2 separate regions of the Homo sapiens genome follow, and region 1 is linked to region 2. Evidence: fine-mapped expression QTL. A gene starts in region 2. The other region holds a variant in brackets. All regions are shown on one strand. Distances are between the middles of the regions. Region 1 overlaps CERK (ceramide kinase). Region 2 holds the start of CERK (ceramide kinase).

The links. PIP is the estimated chance that this variant, and not a neighbour inherited with it, causes the effect.
Region 1: its variant is fine-mapped to the expression of CERK in whole blood (INTERVAL, PIP above 0.99).

The regions. Positions count from the first base shown.
Region 1 is chr22:46,682,282-46,687,644 of GRCh38, reverse strand. It overlaps CERK (ceramide kinase), which reads left to right. Exons shown (of 13, transcript NM_022766.6): 13 at 439-3,235. The coding sequence ends at 511. It also overlaps a transcript of GRAMD4 not described here. Among named protein-coding and RNA genes, the nearest start is that of CERK, 53 kb to the left of the region's middle. RefSeq lists a silencer at 1,039-1,333 and an enhancer at 3,614-4,115. The variant TGCCTGTGCCC/C (reference allele first, on the strand shown) is at 2,125.
Region 2 is chr22:46,734,963-46,740,325 of GRCh38, reverse strand. It overlaps CERK (ceramide kinase), which reads left to right and starts at 2,074. Exons shown (of 13, transcript NM_022766.6): 1 at 2,074-2,319. The coding sequence starts at 2,178. LOC105373077 (a long non-coding RNA gene) reads left to right here and starts at 3,934. Exons shown (of 2, transcript XR_001755593.2): 1 at 3,934-4,023; 2 at 4,818-5,363. RefSeq lists enhancers at 1,232-1,561, 935-1,593, 2,832-3,001, 3,689-4,262 and a silencer at 1,722-2,681.

The sequences.
Region 1 (5,363 bases), 53 kb after region 2:
CACAGACTCCTCGCAGGCCTTGCGCGCTCAGTACTGCTGAGAAAATGGAGGTGGGTGGGTGGGTGGAGTGGGCAGACACTGGAGCGGACGCTCTGCTTTCCATGGGGGTGCTGGAGTTCGAGTCAGGTCTACCGATGCCCAGATTTCCCACCTGGCCATTGGCAACCCCTTTACAAACTCGGCATCCCGGGAGTCTAAGTGAATTATTCCACGCCCAGGGCCCGTCATTGTGGGCTGGACTCCTACAGCCCACGGTGACGTCTGACCGTTCCATGGGGGATGGACCCCCACTTCAGCCCCTGTCCAAGAGCGGTGCTCAGGGCCAGCTTTGAGTGAGGGACACGTGGGGTTTACTGCAGCCCCTGTCCAGGAGTGGGGCTCAGGCCAGCTTTGAGTGAGGGACACGTGGGGTTTACACGTGGCCGCTTGTCTCTGCAGAGTCCACTGCCAGCTGGTTCGACTCTTTGCACGAGGAATTGAAGAGAATCCGAAGCCAGACTCACACAGCTGAGAAGCCGGCGTCCTGCTCACAAACTGGGAAAGTGTGAAAACTATTTAAGATAATTATTACAGACCAATTATGTTGATATATACATTTAAATGTAGAAATTTATTTTTGATAGTTAAATCTTGATTTTAGAAGAAAACCCTTTTGTCAACAATTTTGTGTACATATTTGGCATTTTCAGTTCTGTACGCATCTGCGGGTTGCAGCCCACGCCGCTTACTCTCAGCGGATGCAGCTGCTCACTTGGGGGCACTGGCCTCTTAGGTTTTAACGATGTCAACAGTGTAGTTTAGAAAATGGCCCGTTAGTGGCTCTATTGCAATAATGTTAGGGACATTATATGATTTCCACGCAGGTCACACCATCTGGGCCTGAGGTAGCAGTGGGTCACTTTGATCCACTTTGCAGGACTTATTCTGTAACGGTTTGTGGCCAAGTTTTGGGAAGTGGTTGATTCTCTTTGCCTTCATTTCACCTTCCTCTTCGTTTACGGTTAGGACATCGCTGCTTGATCCTTACAATACTGTGCAACTGCAATGCAACGTGGCCCTGCTTCAGGTGATCCGCGGGAGGGGCCTCCACGCCAGCGCCGGGAAGGCTGCTGGGGCCTCCACACCTGCCTCATCACGGCGGCGAGGCTACGACAATCCGGCTGGGAGCATGACCTTGGCGTCTGTTCTGGGAGCACGGATGATAAGCTCTGGAAGCTGGCAGTGTGTAAAGCACTGGCAAGTTTGTTACTGTTAAAATGTCAAATACCAATGCTTTATATCGACGCGAAGTGCTTAACACAGCCGGGCTTGGGGGCAGTCAGGAGGAAGCTGGCCATCCGTGGAGGAGGGGCCGGTCCTGGACTCCCGCAGGACTCCTCTGAGGCAGGGCCTGAAGTCTGTACACGTGGTCCAGATTTGTCCTTGTCTTTTCTTCACACTGAGTTCTCTATATTTATTGAACATCTTGTCCTTTTAAGCCAGAGTAGTGTAAACTGCGTCTCGGATGTCTGTCTTTTGCCTCGAAGCCACGATGGATCGCTGGTTTCCTCTGCAGCGCGAGGGCTCCGGCGACCAGAGGATTCTTCCCGGAAGGCATTCCTGCCGCGCTCCCCGGGGCACCCCTCAATTGTGTACTACGTCCTTGTTTAGTGTGTATCCGTGCCCACGTAGATGATGTCTGTAACGTAGTTTTGTTTGAAATATGAGAATATGCGGCTTAAACTTTGATCTGTAAGGAGCGGGGCCGTGGCCGTTTGGAGCACGCTGTAGACACCGTTCCTCATGCTGCCGGGTGGGTTTTGCAGAAGCTCCCTTAGTGATTTCATGTTTAACAGGCAGCATCCATTTTCAGAATTTCCTGGCATTGATTTATATTTTGAAGCATACAGGAAACTTCTCGTTTCCTCGTTTAGCCCCACCCAGATCAGGTGAAAGGGCAGCTTTAATGGTGGTTTTTATGGACCACATTATCAGAGAGCACTGTGCAAGCCAAATGGTTCAATAATGAATGAAAATTCTGGGTGTAAAGAGTAAATATGCCCTGGCTCTTTCTACCAATGTTTGCTCCTGGTTGGAAAGAAACCAAAGATTTAAGACGGGCTGCTCTTCCAGACTGGCTGTGCC[TGCCTGTGCCC/C]AGCAACCTGTGCAGCCGGCAGTGTGCCTGGTGTCACGCCAGGAGGCTGTGGCTGCTGTGGGCCCTCTGGAATTGTGCTCCTCACAAAGTTTCCCCAAAAGGTTCTTCTAAGCCTTTATTGTCCCTGGTAAATGTTTCCCGGCTGGGCGCGGTGGCTCACGCCTGTAATCCCAGCACTTTGGGAGGCCGAGGCGGGTGGATCACCTAAGGTCAGGAGTTTGAGATCAGCCTGCCCAACATGGTGAAACCTCGTCTCTACTAAAAATACACAACTTAGCCAGTCTTGTTGGCGCACGCCTGTAATCTCAGCTACTAGGGATGCTGAGGCAGGAGAATCGCTTGAACCCAAGAAAGAGGTGGAGGTTGCGGTGAGCCAAGATTGCGCCACTGCACTCCAGCCTGGGCAAACAGAGGGAGACTCCATCGCCCCCCCCAACAAAAAAAAAAGTTTCCCATACACTGGCCTGCCCCAAAACCCACTAACAATTTTAGCAAAACAGTCCAGGCCAAAGAGGAAGCATTTCATGTTCAATAAGAAACCCAGCCATTCCGCATGGCTGGTTCCTGAGTGGCTCTGGTGATACTCTCCAGCCACCTGCTGACATTCAGAATCTCAGACCTCGGGACTGCTGTTGCGGTACCGTGTGTCTGACACCTGCCAGCAGCCCTTTGCTATCTGCGCGCAGGATGGGGGTGACTGCCCAGACATTCCCGCTAGATAGGCTCTGATTTCCGGGGCAGCCTTTCAGATGCGGCAGACATACAACACCTGTACTTTAGAGTTTTAAGGGAAAAAAAATCAGAAGTGCTGGTTAGATAGTAAAAACTTAGGATAACTTAGAAAGGCTAGTTTTAGCTTCCTTTGTGGCTCCCTGGTGCAAAACAATTAGCAGTTATGCAATGGACCTGATTCTAGTTTATTCTAATTAAGAAGTGAGGCCGAGTTTGACTTCGTTCCTGAATACAATCTTGAGTAACTGGGAAAGTCTGAGTGAAAGGATGGCCTCATTCTCTTTCTAATCTTGCTGGTTTCAAGATTAGAAAATGGCATTATTTGATCTGAAATGTTTGAGAAGACACGAATAAAGTTACTTGGGCAGACTTGGCTTGCTTTCTTTCCTTTACACATACCTGTTATTTTCAAAGCAGAATATTTTTCATGAAAACACACACAATTTAAAGAACAAGAATAAAATGAAGCAAGGTGTCACCACCACCTATGCCAGGCAACTGAACGCCGCCCCGAAGCCTTCTGTGCCCTGCTCTGGAGTCCCCCCGCTCCCCCTGGGAGGGCGCTACGAGGTCACGCCAAGCGCATCCCTTCCTGCCTCTGTCCATGGCTGTATCTGCAACAGCGAGTTTAGTTTTGCAGGTTTTGCTCCTTATCCAAAGGAAACGTGTTGTTTTCTGTAACTTGCTTCTTTCACTCCACATGTCTATTTTTATTTATTTATTTATTTTGAGACGGAGTTTCGCTCTGTCACCCAGGCTGGAGTGCAGTGGCGCAATCTCGGCTCACTACAATCTTGGCTCACTGCAAGCTCGCCTCCTGGGTTCACGCCATTCTCCTGCCTCAGCCTCCGGAGTAGCTGGTACTACAGGTGCCCGCCACCACGCCCAGCTAATTTTTTGTATATTTAGTAGAGACGGGGTTTCACTGTGTTAGCCAGGATGGTCTCGAGCTCCTGGCCTCGTGATCCACCAGCCTCGACCTCCCAAAGTGCTGGGATTACAGGCGTGAGCCACTGCGCCCGGCCCACTCCACATGTTTGAGAGGGCATTTGCATTTGTATTTGAGGAACTTCGAAAGGACATTTGCATTGTGAAACTGACTTTTCTGGTCCATGAAAGATCCTCATTCATGTCTTTTAATTATTTTATAATTTTTTCCATGAAAGTCTTTAAATTTTTAGATTTATTCCTAAAACTTGACTTTTGTTTGTTTTTAACCTTGTTTTAAACAAGGTCTTATTCAGTTGCTCAGGCTGGGGTACAGTGGCGTGATCACGGCTCACTGTAACTTCAATCTCTCAGACTGAAGCAATCCCACCTCAGCCTCCTGAGTAACTGGGACTACAGGCGTGCAACACCATGCCTGGCTATTTTGTTAAAATTTTTTGTAGAGACAGGGGTCTCACTCTGTTACCCAGGCTGGTCTCGAACTCCCGGGCTCAAGCAATCCTCCTGCCTCAGCCTTCCAAACTGCTGGGATTACAGGAGTAAGCTACTGTGCCCAGCCAAAAGTTCTTATTTTGAGGCTTTTTAATGTTTTGTAAAGATAGGGTCTCACCATGTTGCCCAGCCTGGTCTCAAACTCCTGGCCTCAAGTGAACCTCCCATCTTGGCCTCCCAAAGCGCTGGGATTACAGGCGTGAGCCACCACACTTGGCCTTTGAGGCTATCTTAAAATTTGTTTTGTTTTGCATAGAAATGCAATTTTTTGTTTGTTATGAGACGGAGTCTCGCCCTGTTGCCCAGGCTGGAGTACAATGGTGTGATCTCGGCTCACTGCAACCTCTGCCTCCGGGGTTCAAGTGATTCTCCTGCCTCAGCCTCCCAAGTAGCTAGCATTATAGGTGCATGCCACCATGCCCAGCTAGTTTTTTGTATCTTTAGTAGAGATGGGGTTTCCCCATGTTGTCCAGGCTGGTCTCAAACTCCTGGCCTCGTGATCTGCCCGCCACAATTGTTTTTTATGTGTTGGGTTATATCCAGAAACCTTGCCTCCCGTCAACCTAAAGTGACATCAGAGTGTTCTCCTAAGAAAGAGTTTATTCAGGAACAGCAAGGGGATTGCAGTCAGGATATGCGTGCTACACTGGAAGGCATTTTGGGGGGTGTTCGCGATAAAGGCAACACTTTAAAAGGCAAAGAAGTCCATGTAAGCTGCTCTAGAACGAAGTTCACAGGTCACAGCAGCTCCTGGCAGGAGGCAGTACTGTTCACCGCAGGAGTGGCCGTCACTGGGCGGGCGCCCTCGTCGCAGTCCCGAGGGTTCTGGGGTGAGTTCTGCTACAGGCAGGTCTTCGAGAGCTTCTTCACGGCCTCCCCTGACTCATTTTGTACCAGCAGCTTCCACACTCCTATGATGATGATTTACCTGTGAATTTCGGGGTTTTCTGTCATCATATCATTTACAGATAGTAACAGCTGAATGTCTTCTTTACAATCGTGCATGGTCCAGCTATTTCCCCTAGCTTGCGATGCCAGCTGTGACATGTGGTAGAGA
Region 2 (5,363 bases):
TCCTGGAGGTCACTCTCTTTTGTTGCCCCTTCCCATGGCCACCCCTGTGTACACACGCCTCGGGGGTCTGTGTGTGTTCACGTTTCCTCTTCTTTTTTTTTTGAGATGGAGTTTCGCTCTCGTCACCCAGGCTGGAGTGCAATGGCGCAATCTCAGCTCACCTGGGTTCAAGCAATTCTCCTGCCTCAGCTTCCGGAGTAGCTGGGATTCAGGAGCGCACCACTGCACCCAGCTAATTTTTGTATTTTTAGTAGAGACAGGGTTTCACCATGTTGACCAGGATGGTCTCCAATGCCTGACTTCAGGTGATCCACCCGCTTCAGCCTCCCAAAGTGCTGGGATTACAGGTGTGAGCCACAGAGCCCGGTCAACATTTCCTCTTCTTGTAAGGACGCGCTGGATGAGGGCCCACCCTAACAGCCTCATTGAATCTCCTGTGTGTTTTGTAACTGATGTTGCTGTCTCCCCCAACGGAGCTCCTTCGGGGCCTAAGCACTTCTGAGTCGTCTCTGGGCCCCCACCTCTGGCTGCAGGATTTTAAGCCAAGGCGTGCAGCCGGGGGACAGCAACGTGAATACGCCGGGAGGGGCACGGGGAGCCTAAGCACAGGGAGGCCCAGGGAAGGGGTCCCCAGTAGGGACGCTGGTGCTCTCGGGCCCCTGCCCATGCCACCCTTGCCTGCCAACCCTCTTCGCATGCAGCGGCACCCTCCTGCCACTGGCATGAGCTTTTCTTTCCAAGTAAGTTTCAGATCCACATTTCCCAGGCCTCAGAGCGGCAGCTGAGGGAGGGAGGAGGCTGGGCAGGCCTCGCTGCTGCACACCCCACTGTGTGCCACGATCAGGTACTGCCTGCTAGGACTCTGACTGGGCCCACGGTGGCTGCAGGACTGTCCTGGGGCCTTCACTGCATGGCCTGAACAGGGGCTGGGCTCCCAGGGAGGAATGATTCATGGCTGGTTCCCGCCCTATAGACAAGACAGTCACAAGGAGCTGGCAGGGTAAGACCTGTATATGCTGCCACCTGGTGCCAGGCACAGCAGCAAGGCCACGTGGACCTAGCCCACCTCACCTCTGCCTGCAGCAGCAGGGCTGGGTAGGGGAGCCGAGGGGAGGGGCAGGCCTCAGACCTCAGTGTCACATCCAGGCAGTGTCAGTGTGAGCCTAGGCTCTGCCACACTGGAGCCCTGTGCTCTTGGGCAAGTGACTTAACCTCTGTGAGCACAGTCTTCACTGATAAATCAGGGAGGGATGTGCCCTCCGAACCAGGTTGTGGCTGCTTCCTATGGGGCTGTGTTAAGCACTGCGGACGCAGAGACTGGAGCTTGCATGAAGGCGCACGGCGTGCTCTGAAGGCAGGGCTGGAGTCCCTGCAGGCTGGTGATTCCTTCAGCTGTGGGGTCAAGGAGGCCTTCCTGGGGAGGCGGTGAATTGGGGCCACAGGGGCCGTGTCTCTCCAAGTCTGGGGCCCAGGCTCCGGTTCCTAGGGCCAGCTCGGGGGCGGCTGCTCAGCTGTCTGCTCTGTGGCTTCAGGCCCCAGAGCAGTTCAAAGGGCCAGCGCCCCCGCCCCCTAAAAAGACCTCCGCCTCCTGAAAGCCTTACCTGCCTGTCGGGGCCCAGCTGCAGGCCCCCTCCCAGGCCGACAGGACGCCAGGATCGTAGAGGGCACCCGCCGCCCAAGGTCACGTCGCCCGTGGCGCCCCCATCCAGGCCCGCCCCCCGCCGCGCCCGATCGCCAGGACTGCGTTTCCACGCCGCCCGGACCCCGCCTGAACCGAGGCCCGCGCGGAAGGCGCCACTGAGTCCCGGCCGGCCGCGGGAGCGCCAGATTCAGCACCCGGCACCCGCCGGAGAAGAGAGGAGAGAAAGGCAGCCGCCTCCCGGCCCCAGCGCCCTGGCCTCGGCCAGCCCCATCCCGGCCCCTTCCTCCTCCCTCTTCTCCCCTTCTCGGGTCCCCCCGTCTCTCCCTGGCTCCCGGCCCCTCCTCTACCCACGCCTCCTCCTCGCCCCCGCCCCGCCCGTCCCCTCCGCGGTCCCCGCCGCCCGCGTACGGGGTGACGCAGCGCCGCCTCCCGCCGCCCGCCGCCCGCCGCCCGGGCCACTGCAGGGGCCGCTAACGGTCCGGCGCCCCTCGGCGTCCGCGCGCCCCCAGCCTGGCGGACGAGCCCGGCGGCGGAGATGGGGGCGACGGGGGCGGCGGAGCCGCTGCAATCCGTGCTGTGGGTGAAGCAGCAGCGCTGCGCCGTGAGCCTGGAGCCCGCGCGGGCTCTGCTGCGCTGGTGGCGGAGCCCGGGGCCCGGAGCCGGCGCCCCCGGCGCGGGTGAGTGTCGCCGCCGCCCGGGTTCGGCCGGACCTGGCCAGGGAGCGGGGGCGGCTTGGGGGACCCGGCTGGGGGGACCGGGTGCAGGGAGCGAGCGGCTGTGGTAAGGCCGGGGGCCCTGGGAGCGCAGGCGCCAGGGAGGGGTCGGGGCAGGCGGGAGGGAGGCCGGGGCCAGGGGCCGGGCTGTGCGCCGCCGTCTGCTCCGGGAACCCGAGGACAAAGCGCCGCGCAGTGGAGGGGAGGCCGGCGCCCCATCCCCGCGGGGAGGTGGGACCCGGGGCGCGGGGTCGTGGCCCCCGGTGCGGTCTGTCCGCAGGGCACCTCTGGACAAGACGGACTGTGGATGGATCCCGAGGGGGGGTGCCAGGCGCTCCCCACCGCGCGCATTGCAGTTTACTCCAAGAACAGATGCTTTTCTTTAGCAGGGATCCGAAACCTGAGAGGCGCCCTTGCAGGGTGAGGACTTCCTGTTAAGAAGTTAAAGAAGGGGCCCCTGACTTTCTGTGGGGTGTGCTCCCTGCTCGGGATGGGGGAATTGGTTTCCGTGCCACGGGTTGGCTACTTGCCCCGCAGAGGCCCTCCGGATGAGGAGAAGAGTGACTTTGGTAAACATGGAGGACGCATAGCCCACCCTGGAGAGAGCCCTGCAGGAGGACAGAGGGTTTGTTTTTGTTTTTTGTTGTTTTTTGTTTGTTTTTTGTTTTTTTTTTTTTTTGAGTCGGAGTGTTGCTCTGTTGCCCAGGCTGGAGTTCAATGCCACGATCTTGGCTCACTGCACCTCCGCCTCCTGGGTTCAAGCAATTCTCCCTGCCTCAGCCTCGGAGTAGCTGGGATTACAGGAGCCCGCTACTACGCCCGGCTAATTTTTGTATTTTAGTAGAGACAGGGTTTCACCATGTTGGCCAGGCTGGTCTTGAATTCCTGACCTCAGGTGATCTGCCCACCTCAGCCTCTCAAAGTGCTGGGATTACAGGTGTGAGCAACCGCACCCAGCCTTTTTTCTTTTTAATTATTGGGGTGGGTGTGGCAGAGGCCAGGATTCATGCTGGATGTGCGGAGCTGGAATGGGGTGGGTGTGGCGGAGGCCAAGATTCTCTGGTGGATATTCGGAGCCTGGGATGACACCTTTAGACCCTGTGGGCAGTCGAGGTCAGGAGTTCTTCTGGGCGCTTTCTGGTGCTGAGTGGTGAGGATCTGTGGGTTGGGTTCTGGTGGGGACAGAGTTGAACGTTAGGTGGGGCCAAGGTCGAGGGGTGGTCTCAGACCCATGACCAACACTTGGTTTCCAGCCCTGGGGTCACCTATCTGTGGCTGGGCATCTGAGACTTGACTTTCCTAAGGTATTTCTCATGTCCCCTTTGGTAGAAATGTCACACCCCAAATATCACCCACCAGGGCCCACACACAAGGAGAACAGGTGCCTGACCTGGGCCCGAAGGGTTTGTACTTTGTTGTAAATCCCTAGGCTTCAGGAAGATGACTGCCTCCCCCAAGCACTTCCTAAGTGCGGGCCACTGGGCTTCAAACCGGATGGGTTCCTGAGAGGCAGCTGCTCCCGTCCTAGGGATGCAGGGGCCGATCTGCAGGGGCTGGAAGTGACTGGCCCAATTAGCTGCTGTGCTTGTAGCCACTGGGCTGTAAGGCTTCCCTCAGGCTCCAGCCGCCGCAGAGACGCCAGACCCTTACAGGGCATCTGTGTGGGAGGTCAGTCATCACTGCTTTCTGCCTTGGCGTCCCCAGCCAGCTCCCATTATGGTTTCTGGTCCCCCAGGTCAGGGCTTGGTGTGGTGTGGCGTCTGCTTTTGTCCAGCCTGCTGGGGTTTGCCTCTTGGCATGCTAATTGCTTCACTCTTGCTAAGCCAAGGTGCTTTTGTGCGGGTTCATCCTGAGCTGCCTGACTGGCCTGCCAGGAGCTTGGTCCCTCTTGGAGAGGGAGGGCCCTGGTTTGTGGGGCCATGGATGGTGGGGCCCTGGCTGGTGGCCCTGGCTGGTGGGCTTCCTCCAGGAAGCAGCCTGCCCTCTCCACCCAGGAGTGCTCTCCCATGCAATGGGAAAACATCAACAAGTTGGGAAACGCTAAGTTGTGAATGAGTTCAGGAATACAGCCACACTGTCTCTAGTTTTTTTCTCATAGCTTTACAGTCCCCAAAAGGAATCAGGCCCAGGTTCGATTCTTCTATGCTTGAGGTCAGTAGGGCCATAGTAGGGCAGAAGAATGTGAACCAGCTCACAGGACATTTAATTTGGTCAGCAAGGTGGCATTGCCCAGCCCTCCCCATTCCCCCAGGTGTATCTGGGCACACTGGGATTGATTAGGTTGAGGAATGATGAGAGGTGGAGAATTGTGCAAAAACTGGCCCTAGGAGGACCTGTGAGATGAGGCAGGAGCAGCCCTGGAGCTCCAGGTGACCAATGGGCTAAAGACAAAGCCAAGGCCACTGTGTGTGCCCTGCTGGGGTGGCCGCTTAGTTATTCCGACTCCTTTGTTTTCTCCGTAGCATCACCCCTATTTCAGATGTGGACAGTAGGAGTGGGAATTGACTGGGCCCAGAGGCAGTGATGTACAGAGGGAGCTGGCTTTGAACCCAGGCACGTGCACTTTCGTCAGTGGGTCATCATGCTGGGACAGTGACTGACTGTACAAGAGCACAGACAAGGACTAGCAATTTGGATCGCTGCAGCTTCCTGGGCCTGGGTGAGGTCTGCACCTGAGGAAGCCGCGACAGCAAGTGCCCTGGGCCGCCAGCCTGGTGGGAAGTAGGGCAGGACGAAAACAGGAACTTGAAGTGGGTCATGCTCGTTGAACTGGAAACACTGAGTTGATATCTGGGTTATTTCCCCTGACTGTCGCAAAACACACTTAGACAAACCCTGCATTTATTCCTTTAGAGTTGGGAATGGGAAGAGTGTGTGTGTGTGTGTGTGTGTGTTGGGGGGTGAGGGGACTACTGCCCAGGCTCTACCTTTGTGGGAGGATCCTCCCCTTCCTTCCACCAACCCCACTTGGGATGTCCCAGGCTGGTGGTGAACTCGTTGGGCAGGTC